4 separate regions of the Homo sapiens genome follow, and regions 2, 3 and 4 are each linked to region 1. The links come from fine-mapping of genetic effects on gene expression. A gene starts in region 1. Each other region holds a variant in brackets. All regions are shown on one strand. Distances are from middle to middle. Region 1 holds the start of CDYL2 (chromodomain Y like 2). Region 2 overlaps ARLNC1 (androgen receptor regulated long noncoding RNA 1). Region 3 overlaps CDYL2 (chromodomain Y like 2). Region 4 overlaps CDYL2 (chromodomain Y like 2).

The links. PIP is the estimated chance that this variant, and not a neighbour inherited with it, causes the effect. A credible set is the group of variants that fine-mapping cannot tell apart.
Region 2: its variant is the best candidate, but not a certain one, in a credible set for the expression of CDYL2 in neutrophils (BLUEPRINT, PIP 0.52).
Region 3: its variant is the best candidate, but not a certain one, in a credible set for the expression of CDYL2 in whole blood (TOPMed, PIP 0.64).
Region 4: its variant is the best candidate, but not a certain one, in a credible set for the expression of CDYL2 in whole blood (TOPMed, PIP 0.55).

Annotation. Positions count from the first base shown.
Region 1 is chr16:80,802,434-80,807,299 of GRCh38, reverse strand. It overlaps CDYL2 (chromodomain Y like 2), which reads left to right and starts at 2,702. Exons shown (of 7, transcript NM_152342.4): 1 at 2,702-3,150. The coding sequence starts at 3,127. RefSeq lists silencers at 2,422-2,481, 2,502-2,811, 3,422-3,491, 3,772-3,921.
Region 2 is chr16:80,829,451-80,834,316 of GRCh38, reverse strand. ARLNC1 (androgen receptor regulated long noncoding RNA 1) reads left to right here. Exons shown (of 3, transcript NR_131948.1): 3 at 3,560-4,866. Among named protein-coding and RNA genes, the nearest start is that of CDYL2, 27 kb to the right of the region's middle. The variant T/G (reference allele first, on the strand shown) is at 2,063.
Region 3 is chr16:80,735,645-80,740,510 of GRCh38, reverse strand. All of the region lies in intron 1 of CDYL2 (chromodomain Y like 2), which reads left to right. Among named protein-coding and RNA genes, the nearest start is that of CDYL2, 67 kb to the left of the region's middle. RefSeq lists a silencer at 685-844. The variant AT/T (reference allele first, on the strand shown) is at 2,113.
Region 4 is chr16:80,699,162-80,704,027 of GRCh38, reverse strand. All of the region lies in intron 1 of CDYL2 (chromodomain Y like 2), which reads left to right. Among named protein-coding and RNA genes, the nearest start is that of CDYL2, 100 kb to the left of the region's middle. The variant G/A (reference allele first, on the strand shown) is at 2,941.

The DNA.
Region 1 (4,866 bases):
GGAGAACCTAGAGCCTCACTGTTAATTGGTTGGGCTGAACTTCCTACAGTGGGTGAAGACCCTTCCCCCCTTCATCCCTCAGGAAGCACCTGCCTTTTCTGGAAGCTAGCCATGGTCTGGGGGTAAGCTCAAAATAAAATTGTGTTATGACGGATGGGTAGCTCAGTCACTCAGTTTAAAACCTTAGTCATCTCTGTATCCTTTCCTTAGTCGCGGCCCCTCCCCAAGTCCTCAATGCACACACATCCTGTTAGTCATCAAGTCCTGTTGATCTGAATCGAATGCTTCATGGAAGTAGGTGGAGTAACCATAATGAAAGTTAGCCTGGTTCTTCCTTCTGAACATCTCGCAAATCCCATTTTTCTTCTTCATTTCCACTGCTAACACCAGGGACCATTGCAATTGGTCTCCCTGCCCCTAACCTCAAACCCTGCAGTTGATTTCCCATATTTCTTCTAGAATTTGTTTTCTACAGTGCACTTTTGATAGTCACATGCTTTTGATTGATTCAAAAGTCTTCATCAGTTTCTCCACTGTTGACCTACTAAATAGCAAACTTCTTAGCTTGGCTTTCAAGACTATCTCCGAACTGACCCACATTCACCATCCAGGGTCCTGTGACCTCCATAAACCAGTCCTCCAATCTTCTCATACCCTTCCCATAGCAGAATTGCTTACCATCTACTCTGACTTCTTCTCCTCACGGAAAACACTGTCCTTCCTTTTCTATGAGTCTTCAAGATCCATTTCAGTCCTAAAACATTTCCTGAGCATGGTCATCCACACTAAGTATCCTCTTCTGTGAACTCTGTAAACAACTGTTGTCTAGACTAGGGTTTTTCAAACTGCACTCACATTCTCAGGGAGTACTTGGCCAGTACAAGTCAAGCTTTTGGTGTTTTTGTAAAACTACTGATTATATATTCAAATTTGGCTTAGTATATTATTTCCAAGCCCAGTTTCCTTCTTGTCTTCTTCCAAATTACATCCTCATGCTATGGTGGTGCATTTATTCGTGAGTACAAATTAAGACTCATTAAAATTTGTTTAGCTACCTACAGATAGAGAACTGCTTATTATTACTGTTATTATTTAAAACCATGACCACCGGGAAAATATCAATATGAAGAGAGAAGTTCTATAACAATTTCAACAGTTTCTAAGCCAAATATGCTTTCTGATTTATTAATTCCTTATCCTCACCATTTTTTCCTTATCTTCATGCGGGATTTTAACTAGAAATTGGTATAAAATTTGTTATATTGGCATAGTTCGAAAAACAATCACTGTGTACCTACTCTCTCTCAGGAACAGTGGAAGATGCTTGCGATACAAAGATAAACAAGCCCCTATACGAAGAACAAGAATGTTCCAGATGGATTCAATGTGGAAGGACATTCTAGGCAGGGGGAACAGCAAATGCAAATCCATGTGTCCTGGAATGAGCCAGACATGCTTCAGGTTCCATGGAGTTTTTTTTTTTTTTTTTTTTTTTTGGATTAAAAAATTTGGTGACTTTTCAAAGTTTGACAACCTCAGGATTAAACAATTTATCGAGCCCCTCTGCCATCTCACTCTCCATGAGGGCAGTCCAGGTTGAGACTCAGATACAAATCACCTTTATTGAGTTCTGCTGGGATGGACAGGTCACTTCATGTATACGTAGATCCTCTCCTTAATTCTATTTAAATCACTTAGGTGACTATCACCATCTCCCATCAGGGTTCGGTGACCTGCCCACAGCCTCCCAAGTAGAAAATGATCCAGGGAGCATGTGAGTTAATGATACATCACATCTGGAGCCAGGCAGGCATTTCATGGGTGGGGATGAAGATCTTCCCTCCAATTTCAGAAGTCTGACCTTGCAGGTTCTGAAGTAACTATATACATAAATATTTATAAGGAGAACCCTTTAAGCAGAGGGGTGACCATTTATCCATGAGAGATGGCTTAGGAACGGATTTGGGTTTTGGAGAGCTTCTCTAGCTCCTCCAGCTCCGCAGCCTGTCACACGCAGGATGACCTTTTAGAACAACTGAGTGCTCCATTACACTCCTCACTTGCGGATTCAAACTGTCTCTGGGCAGGGTCCCAGTTTTGCCTGTCCAGGGACACTGTGCACTTGGGTTGACTTTGGTAAATGTTTGAGTAAGGGATGAGTGAATAAATTCGGGGAGAGGGGTTGTTGAGGGAAGGCCACCCCTGGCTCTAAAGACTTTCCAGGGTTTATGGGGTGGCCACGCCTGTCCTGGATCCCCATGGTGCCTCTGGATGGGCCATTTCATCCTTCCTCCCTGTGGCCTCCACATCTTACAACCCAGCCTGGAGGGAGGGGCCGCGCAGCCCCGAGGGGCCAGGTCTCCCAGGCGGCGTCCACTCCCCTCGAGGGTGGAGGAGGTAGGTGGGGACCCCGGGCCGGCGGGGCTCGGCTGGGGCCCCTTCCCTGAGGTCTGCAGCCGCAGCCCTCTACCTGGCTCCCCGGCCGCCCCTTCGCGGCCCCAGATCGGGCGCACCCGGCGGGCACCTGGCCCGCCGCCCCCCGGGGGCCCCGCCAGCTGCTCCCGAAGCCGGCCCGGGGTGGCGGGGCGGGCCCGAGCGCTAGTCGACTCTGGGACCGGTCCCCCGGGGCGCGGCCGGGCAGCAGCCCCCGCCTCCCCGCCCCGGGGGCCGGGCCGGGCTCCCGGGGGGCGGGGACTCGCCCAGTGGCAGCAGCGTCCGGGCCGGCGGCGGGCGCCGGGCGGCTTCCTGCAGGCGGCGCCGGGGCGAGCCGTTGCCGGCTGCAGCCACCGCCGCCGGGTCGCCGGGTCGCGGGGGCCGCGGCGCTCGGGCCGCGTCCGTGCCTCCCGGGCGCGCTGCGCGGCCGTCGCTGCTGCCCGCGCTCGTGCCGCCGCCGCCGCCGCCGCCGCTGCTGCCGGTTACGCCAGCCCCGCCGCCGCCCGCTCTGATTCTGCGCATAGGCAGCCCCCAAGCCTGTCATTCTGCAAAAACACAGTTTACTCAACACACCACACACACTCGCACACACACGCGCGCACACACACGCGCACACCGGACCCCGCGCGCACACGCACGGAGGGCGCGAGCGAGCAGACGCGCACACCGGCGAGCCAAGTTCCGCAGCCTGGCATGGCTTCTGGGGACCTTTACGAGGTACGGGGACGCGGGGGCGCGGGCCGGCCCCAGTCAGCGGGCGGCGGCGGGCGGCGGCGGCGGGCGGCGGGGACCGGGCCGGGGCCGGGGCCGGGCGCAATCCGGAGTTGCCGAGCCCGCGGCGGCGGCGGCGGCGGCCGGAGGGTGGCGGGGGCCGGGCGCGCCTCCCGCCCGCCGCCCGCCGCCCGCCGCCTCCCGCGGCGCCCGCGCCCGCTCCCTCTTTCTCTTTCTCTCGCACACACACTCTCTTACTCCATCTACTTTGCGGCCTTGGAGGGGAAGGAGGAAGCCGGGCGGAGCCGGGGCGGGGGAGGTAGCGGTCCCGGGGAGGTGTTTCTCGCCCGACGAGCCGCCTCGAGTACAGAAAGTACAGGTAAAAGTCGGCGCCGGACGTGCTGGGAATGCGGGGGGGCGCGCCGCGGCCGGCGGGGGTGTGGGGCGGGGGTTGCGCGGCCCGGCTGGGCCGGGGGCGCGGGGGAGGAGGGGGGCGGGCGATCGGAGCGGAGCCTGGCCGGGGCGAGGCGGGGTCCCGGGGGGCTGCGAAGGGGGAGGCTGGGTGGGGGTTCGGGGGGACAACCGCCAAACCGCTCCCCGGGGTCCCCGGGCCACCTCCCTCACCCCCCACCTGCTGCCCCCGCACCAGCTCGGACGCCCTCCGGGCTCGGGCGTGGGGGTGGCCCTTGCGGGTGTCGTGCTCCCTGGGGGCGAAAGGGGGCGCTGCGGAGGGCCCTGGGTGGGAGGAGAACGTGGAAGTCTGAGGTGTTGGGGACATAGGACACAGATGCCAGCCCAGCGCCCAGTACTCTCGTCACCCTCAGTGGATACCTGGCTCCAGGTCCTAATGAGTAGTGGCCAGCGTTGGATACTCTCATGTCTTCCCAAAAGTGGCGAAGGAAGACATTAGTCTGGCATCTTTCAAACAATGGAGGAACACCCATGGTCTTTGGGGAGCAAGGGCTTAGGAACACAACTGTTACTGCTTTGGGTTTTCCACAAGTGGACAACACAAGGAACAGCCAGCCACCACTCCCCAGAGGGAATGGCCTCAGAGGTGTTGGCCGCCAAGACCAGGTTCAGGATAAAGAAGTTAAGAGACCAGCCATCTTCAACCAGAGGGCCTTCTGGGCCTCCGTGAAACCAGCCGCATGGGTTAGCCTGGACCTGCACTTCCCGGAACATAAATTGGTTAACGCCATCTGGTTCTTAAGGCTTTGGGGCTCCATTGAGATAAGCACCCAGAAGGGGTAGAATTAGCCTTTTGCATAAGACATTGTAGGGTGATCCACCCACGACAGACTGCAGGGGGTGATTCCTAAGAAGCTCTTTCCTCTAGGCCCTCGTGGGCAGTTGAAGCTTTTTCAGGTGGTGGGTTTGCTGACTGGCGTTAGAGAAGAAGAATGGAGAAAGGAGCACAGGTCTCCTGTGTGACCATGTTCTTGTGAATGATTCTGGAGTTGGTGAGGCCCAGGCCTGGACTGCCGGCCAGCAGGTTCAGGTGGGGTGGGTGGGAGACCTTAGAGCTCCTTGAAAGAATGGTGTATGTTGCCCTCTTCACTACCCTGTGGCCGTCCTCATCTCTATGCTAAGAGACAAGGTGAAGTTGGATAGAGATCTTGTGAAGAACTTCGGCAAATGTGGCCAATGGATCACCCAAGCGCCTTGGTCTGTTTCAAGATGGTGGAACAATTTCTGAAATTGAAAATTGAAGCACAGTAA
Region 2 (4,866 bases), 27 kb before region 1:
GGCAGTGCTTTGGGAATGTAGCTGACCACTGCATGGGTGCTAACTAGCCCAGGGATCTTAAAGAATTTGTGTAGGCCATGAGGATCCACTCCAGCCACTGAATAGTCATAGAATTGAATCTAGGACATCACCGTATGCTACTACCATGCAGTTTTATCCCTTCTAAGAATCCAAATGCCCTAGTTTAATTTCTAAATTTTTGTTTTGTTTATTTTCACTAAAGCAACATGTTAGTGGACTGCGGAGGGAAGTGAATTCATGGCTGGTCCTCATCTTGATATCTTTTAATAGGATCATGAGGCAGTGTGGTAGGAAGAAAACGTTGTATTTAGTTAAAAAAAAAAAAACAAAGAGAATCTGCCTTTTAAGAGAGGAAGAGCATGGCTATCAGAAGTGAATGGCTCTTTGATGGAGTAAAATACTTTGATGAGACTTTGTGGTTGATGAAGATGTCTCTGTCTTGCTTTTTTGACTACTTCTAGGCAAAACCTAGATTTGTAAGGGTAAGTGAGAGAGCTCAACTGCTTCAGCTTAGAAAATAAGGATTTTGACTGTTTGTGGGCAGCCCAAGAATGAGGTAACTGAATGTGGGAAGCCCAAGAATGAGGGGCCCAGTGTGTGAGAATTGGATCCCAGAAATATGGCCATAGGCAGCCTCTGGGGAGAGACCAAGGCCATGAGAAGCTCCCCATGAAGGAGACATTATGGGACGTGTGTGAAAATGACACAGTTTTAAATTACGTGCGTTCTGGCTGTGAAGGAATGGTTGTAAAGAAACCACTTATATTATCCCTAAAAGCCTCAGTAAACGTTTGCCACACGATGTAACAGCTTTGGGATAGTTGCTGGGGAAGAGGGAAGGAGGCTGAGTGGGGTTCAGAAGCAGCAGGGAAGAGAGGTGACCCACAGGAGGGTAAGCCCTACTTCATCCACTCCTCTTTCCCATTCTCACTCTCTGAGGCACTGGAAAGGTCACAGGACCTCTCCTAGTACATGAGATGGGAGCTCGACACATTTTATTTGGAGAATAAAAGAAAATATGCCGTCATCAAACTAGAGCGTGTTGGGGGGCATCTGGTTTACAGAACTAAGTCAAGGAGAAGAACTCTCAAGCAATGGTGACATCTGCCAGCTCTGCAAAGTGGGCCCTGCCTTGTCACACAAGTCTCCTTGGGCAAATGTTTTCTATGTAGATTTTAGACACTTTCCTGTGACTTTCTCAAGGTCTTTTGGTGACACATGCAGCTTGAAGCTTTTGCAAGGGGCTGGAGTCTAATCTCTTCTTGCCCAGCTTGGCTGCAGGAGAAGAAGGGAGATATGTTAGGACTTGGCTTTGACTGAGGTGGTGTAGCCTGGGGTTGCAAGGGCTGTTGCCAAGGCTTTCTGGTGGCATCACATGCTTCAGGAGTTGGATGAATTTTCTGTCATCTTTTGGACTCTGTCGCCTCAAGATCGCTTGTTTTGTTGCATTGCAAAGATCATGTTAGCTGTGTCTCCTTGCCGTTCTGAGAGTGCCTGGCTGCCAAACACAGTCCAAGAACTGTTGAAGAGGCCTCTTGCTAAAGGTGACAAGTTGAAGATGCCAAGGCGTTTGCTGCAGTCATTTTTCTTGCCCAATCTTTATCATCTTCCATTAGTCAGGAGTATTAATGGACAGTCCTGGAGTGTCCAAATGGCAATAATCCATCTTTTTCCCAATCCTACCAAGGGTGTTTCAATGCAGCTGTTGGAATAGTAATGTTTGTGCATTATTGCTGTTCTCAGGGTACTGTAAACTTCTCCCCCTCCTGGATCTTTGCTCACTAAATCAGCCCTAACCCTTTCTCTTCAGTCTCTTTCTCTTGACTTTCCCCTAGATCTTGCCCCTAGACCATCACTCAGCTGGTTCCTCTTCATTGCCTCCATCTTAGTTCAAATGTTTCTTCTTTGGACAGTTTGGAGTTTTGCTCCCCCTCTTCCCTGCCATTCTATAGTAGGTTTTTTTTTTCTTAAAATAGTGCATATCATCTGGGTGCGGTGGCTCATGCCTATAATCCCAGCACTTTGGGAGGCTGAGGGGGTG[T/G]ATCACGAGGTTAGGAGATAAAGACCATCCTGGCCAACATGGTAAAACCCTGTCTCTACTAAAAATACAAAAAAATTACCTGGGTACGGTGATGCGTGCCTGTAATCCCAGCTACTCGGGAGGCTGAGGCATGAGAATCGCTTGGAGCCGGGAGGCAGAGGTTGCAGTGAGCAGAGATCATGCCACTGCACTCCAGTCTGGTGACAGAGTGAGACTCCGTCTCAAAAAAAAAAAAAAAAAAAAAGGTGCATATCACTACCTGTATTGGCTTGTTTAATGGCTTACTTAGTGTCTTAGTCCGTTGTGTTGCTATAAAGGAACACCTGAGGTTGGGTAATTTATAAAGAAAAGAAGTTTATTTGGCTCATGGTTCTGCAGGCTGTACGTGAAGCATGGCCAGCATTTGCTTCTGGTGAGGGCCTCAGGGAGCTTCCAGTTATGGCGGAAGGCGAAGGAGAGCTGCATCACATGGCGACAGGAAAGAACAGAGAGGAGGAGGTGCTAGGCTTTTTCTTAGTACCCAGATCTTGCCTGAACTAATAGAGTAAGAACTCACTCATAGGTATGGCACCAAGACATTCATGCATGATCTGCCCCCATGGTCCAAAAACCTCCACTAGGCCTCACCTCCAATACTGAGGATCAGATTTCAACGTGAGATTTGCAAGGACAAATACCCAAACTGTATCACTTGCTTATTATCTTTCTCCCTCTACTAGAATATAAGCTCAAGAATGACCAGGATTGCATCCGATATGCTCACCATCGTATCCTTCCCATGTACAACTGTACCCTGCACACACTAGGTTCTCAAGAAATATTCATGTAATAAGTGAATAATTGAATGAATGAATGACTAAGTGAAACTTCTCTTTACAACAAGCAAATGTAATAGCCCTTTCTAAGCTCTCATCATCCTCATTGTCCTTGGTGGATTCCCACCACACTCAGAATTCCTTTTCACCTTTCCATGCATATGAGGCCCCACCTAATCAGGTGCTGGTCTTCTTAGCTTTCTGTCTCCTACCACTTTTTGTCTTGCTTCGGGAACTCCACTGTCTTTTCTGTTATAGGAACATGCTAAGGTTATTCTTCATAGTCAAGAGCACAAGCTCTGAACCCAGCCAAATCTGTTTTTGAACTCAAGTTCCACTTATTGCTAGCTGTGTGATATTGGGAAATTCTTTATGTTCTGTAACCCTCACCTCCCTCATGTGTAAAATGGAAGTAATGATGGTACCTGTCTCATATGTGGCAACTACGTGGGGCAGCACACTCAAGGAATGAAGGAAGTTTCAGTGAATGACAACTTTATAAAGACAGTGTTGAGGCAGCCCAGTGCAGCGGTTTGGGAGCCAGGAACAGCGTGTGGGCCGGAGTGTGGCTGCAGGACAGGAGGTCAAAAATAAGGGTTGAGGGTGGAATAGGAAGACCCCGGAACGTCATCCTGGGAGCTTGAGATTTTATTCTACATTTCTCTTGTTCTTAACTATTTAGGGTGATGGATCTCTGCAGTAAGTGGAAGAGTTCTTCATGGCCCCCAAGGTTATATCCATCTAGAACTTCAGCACGTAATTTCATCTGGAAATAGTGCCTTTGCGGATATAAGTTAGGTAAAACTGAAGATGAGATCATACTGGATTAGGATGGGATCTAAATCCAATGAAAATGTCTTCATAAAAAACAGGAAAGAACCCATAGAAACACAAGGAAGAAGGTCATGTGAAGATGGAGGCAGAGATTGGAGGGATGCAGCCACCGGCCCAGGAATGCCAGCAGCCACCCAGAAGCTGGAAGGAAATGAGGGATTCTCTCCTAGAACCTTTAGAGAGAACATGGTCCTGTGAACAGCTTGATTTTGGACTTGCCCATAGCTTGTATACTCTTACTTTGGATACAATTTTATCCAAACTTGGCTAAACAGTTTCTCAGCCTATGGAAAATTTAAAATGGAGAAGATTCAACTCGATTCTTACAGATTCAAAGCAAGAAAATGATGGGAACATAGGAGGAGACCAAGAAAGCCTATAAAAAGCAAAAATATGAAGTGAACATTGTGGTAGCTTTAAGATGTTTAGTGTAGCTGCAGGCACCCTATACACATGAAAACCCCCAAGGGGAATCCCCATATCACAGTGTAGTGTGATATTTGACATTCGTGATCATCTAGAGATGTACAGAAAAGGTGAATCTGTGTTCTGTATATTCTGCCTAAGGCAAAGAAATGTTTAGCTCTCTTTAAAATAGTTCCATAATTTTTTCTAAAAAGCTTTGCTTGAAAACTGTAAGCTTCCCATATCTGGAGCATTTCACTTTAAATATTTGGATAAATATGTTATCTTCTTACTTGGACATTTCATGTGTTTAGGGATTGTCTTCTAAATTCTTCCTAATTCATATAGCTGCTAACACTTCCCGCAGAGCTAAACCATTACAGATATGAAATAAAGACCTATTGATTTGACTTACTTTTACTTGTAAAACCTTCTGAGTGTTATAACCTCATTTAATCTTTCAGCATTTACAGTTTCAAGAGTTTGTGTCACAATTAGAAGAATTCAGCTGCACCTCCAAGTGACAGCAGTTGCTCTGGTTGGTGGGTGATCTCAGGAGGCTTGAGAATTGCTTTGTCTGTGAGGGAAGTAAGACATTTTCAGAGCCCCACTTTAGAAGGTGTGAACTGGCTAGATAATGAACCCCAGGGCTAACGCTGCTATAGCAGTGGGAAGGAGGTGATGGGTTTTCAGTTTGGACCTCAAACATCAATACCCTCCTGGTACGGGGAGGAACAGAGTCCCTCCTTT
Region 3 (4,866 bases), 67 kb after region 1:
AACTGATATTAAAAATAATGGTTTTGAATGTCAGGCTTGAATTTTTAATGCTGAAATTTTGTGTACTACAGAACTTGGATGGGTGGGTGGTCATAGTTGTACTTTTGAATTAGGCCTTTTAAATGGTTCTCAAATACATATGTCTGTTCATATGTCTGGCTGTTTCTATACTCACTTCACAACCTCCTCCACCGTAGAAGTGAAAATAAAGAATGAGAATATATCTCAGTAGGATCATGGGCTACATGATGGAAGTTTTAGTGGGGAAAACAAGTGGCAAGTTTCATCCACTCTGGTTTTTGGTGCATCTTCCTGGACGTGCTCATTCCACAGAGCAAGGTTAGCAAGGAACACTGAACTGACAAACTTGTCCATGTGGTTGTCAATCCTGCCCGATTTAGTCAGCCTCTTTTTCTGAGTTAGAGACCTGTAAGTAGCTTTTCTGTCTTCTGTAATTTCTCTCTGCACCCGTCCCCTCCTCTGGCACCCACCACCCTCCACAGCCACATGGGGAAGACCCTAGCAAAGACAGTGACATTGCCCCCAAGTCGTTTCATCCTGGGCATCAATGTACGTGACTCAGCTTTGTGCTCCACAGACTTGGGCTGCTTTGTTGGTATAGCCCAGATCAGCATTTCAGGTAATTGGGCTGTAATTGGCCTGCCGTGGACAGCAGGTCCCCAGTGTGAGGCTTCTGTTTTTGGGGAGTTTCCCTGATTGGCAGGGAGTAAGGCAGTGACCTCTCTGTCTCTCTGAGAGCAGCGCTTCTATGACTCATTCTGGCTCCCACCTCCCACACCTGAGCTCTGAGCTGGTGCGTCTTGTTCCATGGGCTGGTGTGGGTGGCGGTGTGGATGGCAGAGCAGGATGCCAGCACACTCCTGGGAGGCAGTGCTAGGGTCTCTCTGGTGTGCTGGGTGCTATCCTGGGACTGCTGGTGCCCGGCTGCTGTGTGAATCTGCCCCGCTGGGGCTTAGCTCCTGATCTTTTGTCCTATGACACCTCCAAATTTCTCCCTCCTTCCCACTGACATTTCTTTCTTTAGCTCTTGCATCTCCCCATTCTATTCTTTTTTAGATTGTGATAAAATACATATAACATAAAATTTACCATCTTAACCATTTTTAAGTGTGCATTTCCGAGGTATTAAGTACATTTACATTGATGTGCAGTAATCACCACTGTCCACCCACAGAACTCTTTTCATCTTGCAAAACTGAATCTCTGTCCCCATTAAACACTAATCCCACATTCTCCCCTTCTCCCCCAGTCCTTGGTAACCACGATTCCACTTTCTGTCTCTATGAAATAAAATACTCTAGGGACCTCAGATAAGTGGAATCATACAGTCTTTTCATGACTGGCTTATTTCATTCAGCGTGACGTCCTCAGCGTTCATCCATATTGAAGTATATGTCAGAATTTACTTCCCTTTAAAGGCTGACTATACTCCATTGTGTGTGTATACCACGTTTTGTTTATCCATTCATCCATTGATGGAAAATCGGGTTGCTTCCACCTTTTTCACCTTGTGAAATACTCCTCTGATCTTTTACAGCTGAAGACAATAGTGGTCAAAGCATGTAGCGCTTTTTTTACAAAGTTGTTCCTATGAATTTTCACAAGAATTAGAAATTTGCCACTATCATCATCTCCATTTTATAGATGAGGAAACTGAAGCTTGGCGAAGTTAAATAATTTGCCCAAAGTTACCTTTAAAAAATAGCTTAACTGAGATATGTTCACATACCATATGACTCACCAATTGAAAGTGTACAAGTCAGTGATTTTTAGTGTATTTACAGAGTTGTGCAACATCACCACAGTTAATTGTAGCATATTTTTATCACCTGAAAAAGAAACGGTATACCCTTTAGTTATCACCCGCCTATTCTTGTGTCCCCACCTTAGCCCTGGCAACTGCAAATCTGCTTTCTATCCCTATGGATTTGCCTATTCTGGAATTTCATATGAATAGACTGGCACAATGTATAGTCTCTTGTGTCTGGCTTTTTTCACTTAGCATAATATTTTCTAATTCTCCTAGTTGTAGCATGTAGCATTAGTACTCATTTCTTTTTGTTTCCTAAAATTCCTTTTTTTAAAAAAAAA[AT/T]AGACATGGGATTACTGGGTATATACCCAAGGAATTATAAATCATTCTACCATAAAGACAGATGCGCATGTATGTTTATTGCAGCACTATTCAAAATAGTAAAGACTTGTAACCAACCCGAATGCCCACCAGTGATAGACTGGATAAAGAAAATGTGGCACATATACACCATGGAATACTATGCAGCCATAAAAAAGGATGGGTTCATGTCCTTTGCAGGGACATGGATGAAGCTGGAAACCATCATTCTCAGCAAACTAACACAGAAACAGAAAACCAAACACTGCATGTTCTCACTCATAGTGGGAGTTGAACAGTGAGAACACATGGACACAGGGAGGGGAACATCACACATGGGGCCTGTCGGGGGGCTGGGGGCTAGGGGAGGGATAGCTTTAGGAGAAATGCCCAATGTAGATGACAGGTTGATGGGTGCAGCAAACCACCATGGCACATGTATACCTATGTAACAAACCTGCACGTTCTGCACATGTAACCCAGAACTTAAAGTATAAAACAACAACAACAACAACAACCAGTCCCTAAATGCATTAGAAAAAAGAATCTCTCCCATGAGGCTGGGCATTCTTTAGAGAAATGGTTCTCAAAGTGTGGTTCCCAGACCTGGGGACTTGGAAATGCAGATTCTCAGCCTTACCCCAGACCTACTGAATCGGAAACTCTGGATGTGCAGCCCAGCCATCTGTGTCTTAACAAAGCCTTCACCTGATCCTGATGCACACCAAAGTTTGAGAACCAGTGCTTTGGAGAAACTTGCCAAGAAAGAGACAAAGAGAAAACCACCACCACTAGCAGCAGCAGCAACAGCAGCAACAACAGTCCAGGCAACAGCTGGTATGAAGAGCCATGCTCACGGTACCTAGAGCAAGGTACAGTTTAATACAGTGGCTGAAGAGCTCACGCTCTGCAATTCTCACAGCCCTGGGTTTGAACCCCAGCTTTGGTACTTGCTGGCTGCCACTTCCCTTAACCCCTGAATCTGCAAAATAGGGATAATGATTCCTCCCTTTTAAGGTTGTTCCAAGGACTCGGTGAGACCTTACCTGTAAGGCACTTAGCACAGAGCAGCACATTAAGTAAAAGCCACTATACCAGAAAGGAAACTCAAGCAAATCCATCCTCTGCAAAAGTGTTAACATCTCTGTGAGTTCAACATCCTGTGGAACAGCAGTCTACATGGGGTACTTACACACTGGTAGGTACAAGCAGACTTGGTCTGGGGGCATGGATAGATTTGTGAGGCTCAATTTCAAGATCCTCAGTTTTCCTACAGGCTGTCCTGAAACTGATCTGCCTGCAAAGGGGGCATGAAGCAAATTCTCTTTCCTTGTCTTCTCTTTCCACAGGAGCCCTTCTCCCACGTAACAAAAGAAAGGCAGAGTCTCAGCCATCCCAAATCTGAATACGATGCATCATGTAATATAAATTTCCAGGGCTCCAACAGAGGATAAATGGAAATACTGAGGTTGTGAACAATGATTAGATAATAAATCCATGTGCAAGTGAACAGTTCAAATGACTGGGTAACAAGTCCTTATCCAAGTCAAGTGGTTCGTACATAATTGAAGGAAGCCCTAATTGGGCTGTAAGTTGATAGATCATTAAAAATAATTTTTGATGATTAAAAAAATAGAGATGACGTCTCACTATGTTGGCCAGTCTCATCTTGAACTCCTAGACTCAAGTGATCCTCCCACTTTGGCCTCCTAAAGTGCTGGGGTGACAGGTGTGAGCCACTATACCCAGCCTTATTTTCTGAGATTACTTTTTGAACTCAGACATCTGAGTCCACAGTCCCAGTGTTCAGCCACATTGCTGTCCTGTCTCCTCCTTCAAACATTGTATACAAGTTCATGTTTACCTGTTGATATCTTCCCAGCTTCCCCTCATATTCAAGAGACTGGGGGTTCAGCTTTGTACCTCTCTTGCTCACTGTCATGTTGCACATAAGGGCTTCGTAAATTAAAAATTAGTAACTTGAAAATAAGTGCTTAGTCTGTTGAATGCTGTGTGTTGGACAGTGTTGCAAACTAAACTCACGCAAGGAGTCACTTGTGTTAGTATTCTGTGCATGATGGTTACGTATCGTGTTTTGCCGTTAGAAACGAGAACAGACAAATGAGAACATGTTCGTTAAAGGGCTCTGAAACAGTGTGAATTATAAATGTATTGATGGTGGGGATGTGTCACCATTTGCAGTTAGGTTCAGGAGCTGATGAACAACCCACGAGATGGAGGTTTGCACACAGTGGCCTTGGGCCTGTGGCCAGCTGTGACAGCTGGGAGTTCCACAGTCTCAAGGTCACTGGCCTATGTCATAAAAGGCTGGTTACTGAGGACAAGCTGGGAAGGTGACCCTTAGTCCAGCGGATGGAGCCACCTGGGGTGAGGAGTAATTACTTGCTTGAGGCCCCTGAGCTACTAAGTGCAGACCCGAGTCTCTGTGATTCCTAAGTGCCTGCCTTGCCCTGCTCTCTCTAGCCTTGGATGTGGACAGGCTGTGTTGGAGGCTGGTTAGGGACCAAAACATTCTCTGAAAGTAGGAGCTGTTTGCAGCTCCCTGACTGCAGGTTTCTTTTGAAGAGGCAATGCAAATGGAAGGGGTGGTCTGAAAGCAGTGCCATGGCTTCAGAGTACTCTGTCGAGAGTCCAGTGATTATTGCTATGTGGTCCCTGAGAAAAAAAGGTCTATGCACAAAACTTCCCGGAGCTTTTCTAGAATAGACACCAGA
Region 4 (4,866 bases), 100 kb after region 1:
ATCTTCCAGCAACATGCACACTTCCGCTATCCTGTAACTCAATTGTTGGCCTGTGTGTACTTTGGAATTCAGTATGCAGTGTGGTGATGGGCGCACCCACCCTGCGCAGCTGGGCAAGAGAAGGGAGGTGGCTGCTCTGCTTACCTGGGTGCAAAGTTTGATGCTAACGTGGCTCCGCAGGTGAGGCTTGTCATCCAAGCTCAGGCAAGGCCAGGTGTGGTCTGGAATCAGAGGTCAAGAGGGCAGGACCCTGCAGTAGGGGTCCTGGTAACCAGCAGGACTTAGGGGAGCCTGTACCCAGGAATAGCCGTGGAGAAGCCCCTGACCACCAGGTGCGGTTCTGGGAGGGGCTGGGTCACTTGTCCCTCTCCTTGAGCCAGAGTGTGATGCATGGTAACCAGATTGGTTGCTAGAGCACCCCACAGGGAGGCCCTGTGGCCTGAGCCACCACAGGGTGATGGGGATACCTGCTGTAAGGGCAGAGTGGCTGGGTGGGCATTGACTCATGGGCACCAGCTTTGGTCTAGTGCACATTAGAGAAAGTCCAGGGACCAGTGACGAGGTTGGTAGCTCTAGTCCAATCCTGAATCTGGGGATAAGCCTGAGGCTTTCTGTGTTCATTCATTCATCTAGCATTGACTGTACCTCTACCATGTGACAAGCCGTGGGGTTCACAGTCGAAAAAAAGAGCCTCTACAATCAAGGAGGCCACAGTCTAGTTGTGGAGGTAAATCAACCTTTAAAATATAATGCTATTCACATATATTTATCTGTTCATGAAAGGAAACTTTGTAAATACAAAAGAGTATAAAGAAGATAATTAACACTAATCTTGCTCCCTGGAGATAACATTCTTGTTAACATCTCCACCTCTCTTTTTGCCCAGGTGTGTGTGTATGTGCATATTCTACATGGTTGAGATAATTCTGTTAATGGGGTTTCCTATTTTTATTAACATTTCCTTCTTATCTTTTTTTCCTAGATTCATGTGTGTATATATATTCCACATGATTGAGCTAATACTCTAATAAACTTTTATGTCAAGTTATATCAGTTATGGACTTAGTGGCTTAAAGCAATAACAACTGATTATTTCTTAGGCTTCTGTGGGTGAGCTCTGTTGATTTCATCTGGGCTCACTCATGCAGCTGGGATGGAAAGTCCAAGATGGCCTCACCCACATTTCTGGCGTGCAGTGCTGGCTGTTGGCTGCGGCATTTTGTGTCTACTCATCCTCCAGGAGGCCAGGCTAGCCTCCTAATATTGTGGCCTTACCTGTCCACAGGGTCTTACTCTGTCACCCAGGCTGGAATGCAGTGGTACGATCATAGCCCACTGCAACCTTGCCTTCCTGGGCTCAAGCGATCTTCCAGCCTCAGCCTCCCGAGTAGCTGGGAGTACAGACATGAGCCACCACACCCAGCTAATTTTTAAATTTTTTGTAGAGATGGGTTGTCACTCTGTTGCGCAGGATGGTCTGAAACTCCTGGCCTCAAACAATCCTCCTGCTTTGGTCTCCCAGAGTGCTGAATTATAGACGTGAGCCCTCATGTCCAGACCTGTCTGCTTTTCCTAATGATATTCCTGAGATCTTTATATATTTCTTGATTATTTTTACTATTTTACTTCATGCCACTTAATTTTTTTCTATTTTATACACTTTTTTTCTTGATTTCTTCTAAAAAATGGGATACATGTGCAGAACGTGCTTTTCTGAGCAAAATATTATTTTGAACATGGGATGTCTTTCAATGAAAAATGAGATGGCTGTCTACCTCTGTCTTGTTTTCTTCTAAGTTTTTATAGTTTTGTGTGTGTGTGTGTGTGTGTGTGTGTGTGTGTGTTTTAGGCCTTCTGACTCTTGGAACCTCTTGGAATTAATTTTCAGAAAACCCCCAAACTCTGATTCCTCTACTGTGAAGTGGGGGTTTGTTTCTCACTCCACATTCCTGTATAATTGCCCCAATCCCACTTATGCAATAATTCTGCTATTTGGCACTGATATTTGATGCTACTTTGTTTCCGATTTTATCTCCTAATATATGAAGGGATGTTTTCAGGCTTGCTTTCTTGCTCAGTTGATTTATTTTTCCTGTCCTAATGCTACACTCACAAGTATAGTGGCTTTATATTCTACTTGAGTATGTTATTGTAGAAGTGCCTTCTCATTATTCTTCTTTTTCAAAAATCTCTTGGCTATTTTTATTTAATTCTCCCAAAGGTACTTGAGAACCATTTTGTAAAGTTCTGAAAATGAACTCATTGGGACTTTGATTGTAAACTGCGTTACATTTATCGATCAGTTTGTTGCAAACCAACTTTTAATATGTGAAGACTTCCCATCCAGAAACATGGTACATACAGCTCCATTCATTTCAGCCCTTTAAAACATCTCAGTAGAATTTTGTTGTTTATCTTCTTGTAGTTTTCCAATATTTCTTGTGAAAGTTAACGTTTGCAATTCGGTGTTTTTTTGGTTGTTTTTTGGAATGTGCTCATTTTTCCCCATGATATGTTCCAGTTGGTCATTTTTAAAAACAGAAATCAAATTAATTTAAAAAATATTTTTATTGATTTTTAAATGGAATAGATACTATGTAAATAATGTTCATTGAAAAAAAGCTTTACAGAAGAATTTGAATAGAAATGAAAGACCTTCTTTGTGGCCTCTTCCCCTGCATCCACTCCCTGCCTTAGAGAAAACCATTGTTAATAATTAGGCAATAACCATAGAAGATTAACAGTGAATTATTCCAGACCTTTATATATTTGCATATGCATATTTTGACATAAATGGGATCATACTGTACATTAAGACATATAGCTCTGTCTTGATCTATGTAGAGGTTCTACTTTGATAGAGTCCCTGTTTATTGCTTTTTTCCCTTTAGAATTGGTTGTATGCGGATGGATACTCAAAAGTCAAATGGCTGGTTCAAG[G/A]GTTTGTGCAGATTTTTTTCCCAGTGGCTTAAGACTGCAGGGGTTTATTTCTCACTCATGCTACCTGTCCAACAGTGTTTAGTGGGATCTTCTGCCCGCCGAGTCCCTCAGAGACCCAGGCTGCTGCTGAAGGCTTAACTGTTTCTTAGCTGCACGGCGTTACAACTCATGGCCTGCTCTGTTGCTGTGGCAGGGAAGACAACAAATAGGAAATTAAACCTTTCTGTTCAGAGGTGATACATTTCTTCTGTTTCCTGCCTACTGGCGAGAGAAAGCTAGCATGATGTGAACCTATGTACTATGTGTGGGAGGAGGAGGAGAGAAGGTTGTACATTTTAATTTGCATAGATATCTGTTAAATTACCTTCCCTAAAGGGTATATCCATTTACATATGCTAAGAACATATATAGCTATTCGTATGCCCACATCCTTGCCAACATAGGGTATTAGCAACCTTTTAAAATTTTGCTGATCTTTCTCACTGTTTTAATTTTCATTTCCCTGATTAGTGATGAGCTTAACCCTCTTTCTAATATGTTGATAGCCATTTTTATTTATTTGAATTTGTATTTCTTATTCTGCTTCTTTGCCCATTTTTAACTTCTTTTTCTTAATCGACTTTGAAGTTCCTTACATATTCTGGATGTTACTCTTTTGTTGCAAATGTGAATATTTTCTCAGTCCATTGTCATTTAATTTTATTTTTGATGTCTTTTATGAAAGGAAAAATTTTAATTATAGTTTAGTGAAATTTAGCACTCTTCATGGCCATTAGATTTTTGTTTCAGTGACCTTCTCCACTGTAAGTCTTAAAACGCATTTTTTGTGTTTGATATGTTCTTAGATTTTTGTTTAACTTTCTAATTTATCTGGAATTTTGCAGAGGCACTGTGATTTCTCCAACTTTGCTCTTTTTAAAAATTGTTTTGGCTGGCCGCAGTGGCTCACGCCTGTAATCCCAGCACTTTGGGAGGCCGAGGCGGGCGGATCATGAGGTCAGGAGATCGAGACCATCCTGGCTAACATGGTGAAACCCCGTCTCTACTAAAAAATCAGCCAGGCGTGGTTGCAGGCACCTGTAGTCCCAGCTACTCGGGAGGCTGAGGCAGGAGAGTGGTGTGAATCAGGGAGGCGGGGCTTGCGGTGAGCGGAGATCGCGCCACTGCACTCCGGCCTGGGCGACAGAGCGAGACTCCGTCTCAAAAAAAAAAAAAAAAATTGTTTTGGTCATTCTAATTATTTACCTTTTCCACATACCTTTCAACCTTTTAAGAAAAGTTTTTGACACATAATAATTATACATATTTATGGAGTATAGTATATTTCAATACATATAGATAATGTGTAATGATCAAATCAGGGTAATTAGCATATCCATCCCTTCAAACATTTGTCATTTCTTTGTGTTGAGAATAGTAAAAATCCTCTTTTCTAGTTATTTGAAAATACACAATAAAATTTTGTTAACTATATTCACCTTACAGTGCTGTAGAACATTAAAACTTAATCCTTCTGTTTAGCTGTGATTTTGTATTTATTAACTAACCTCTCCCTATCCTCTGTTCGTGCTATTCTTCACAGCCTCTAGTAACTACTGTTCTACTCTCTACTTCTATGAGATCAACTTTTTTAGCTTCCACGTATGAGTGAGTACTAGTGGTATTTGTATTTCTATGCCTGGCTTATTTCACTTAACACAATGTCCAGCAGGCTCGTGCATGTTGCCACAAGTGATAGAATCTCATACTTTTTTATGGCTAAATAGTATTGCATTGTATATAAATATGTATATCATATTTTCTTTATCCATTCATCTGTTGATGGACACTTAGGTTGGTTCTATATCTTGACTATTATGAATAGTGCTGCAGTAAACATGAGAGTACAGGTATATCTTAGACATACTGATTTTCCTTCCTTTGGAT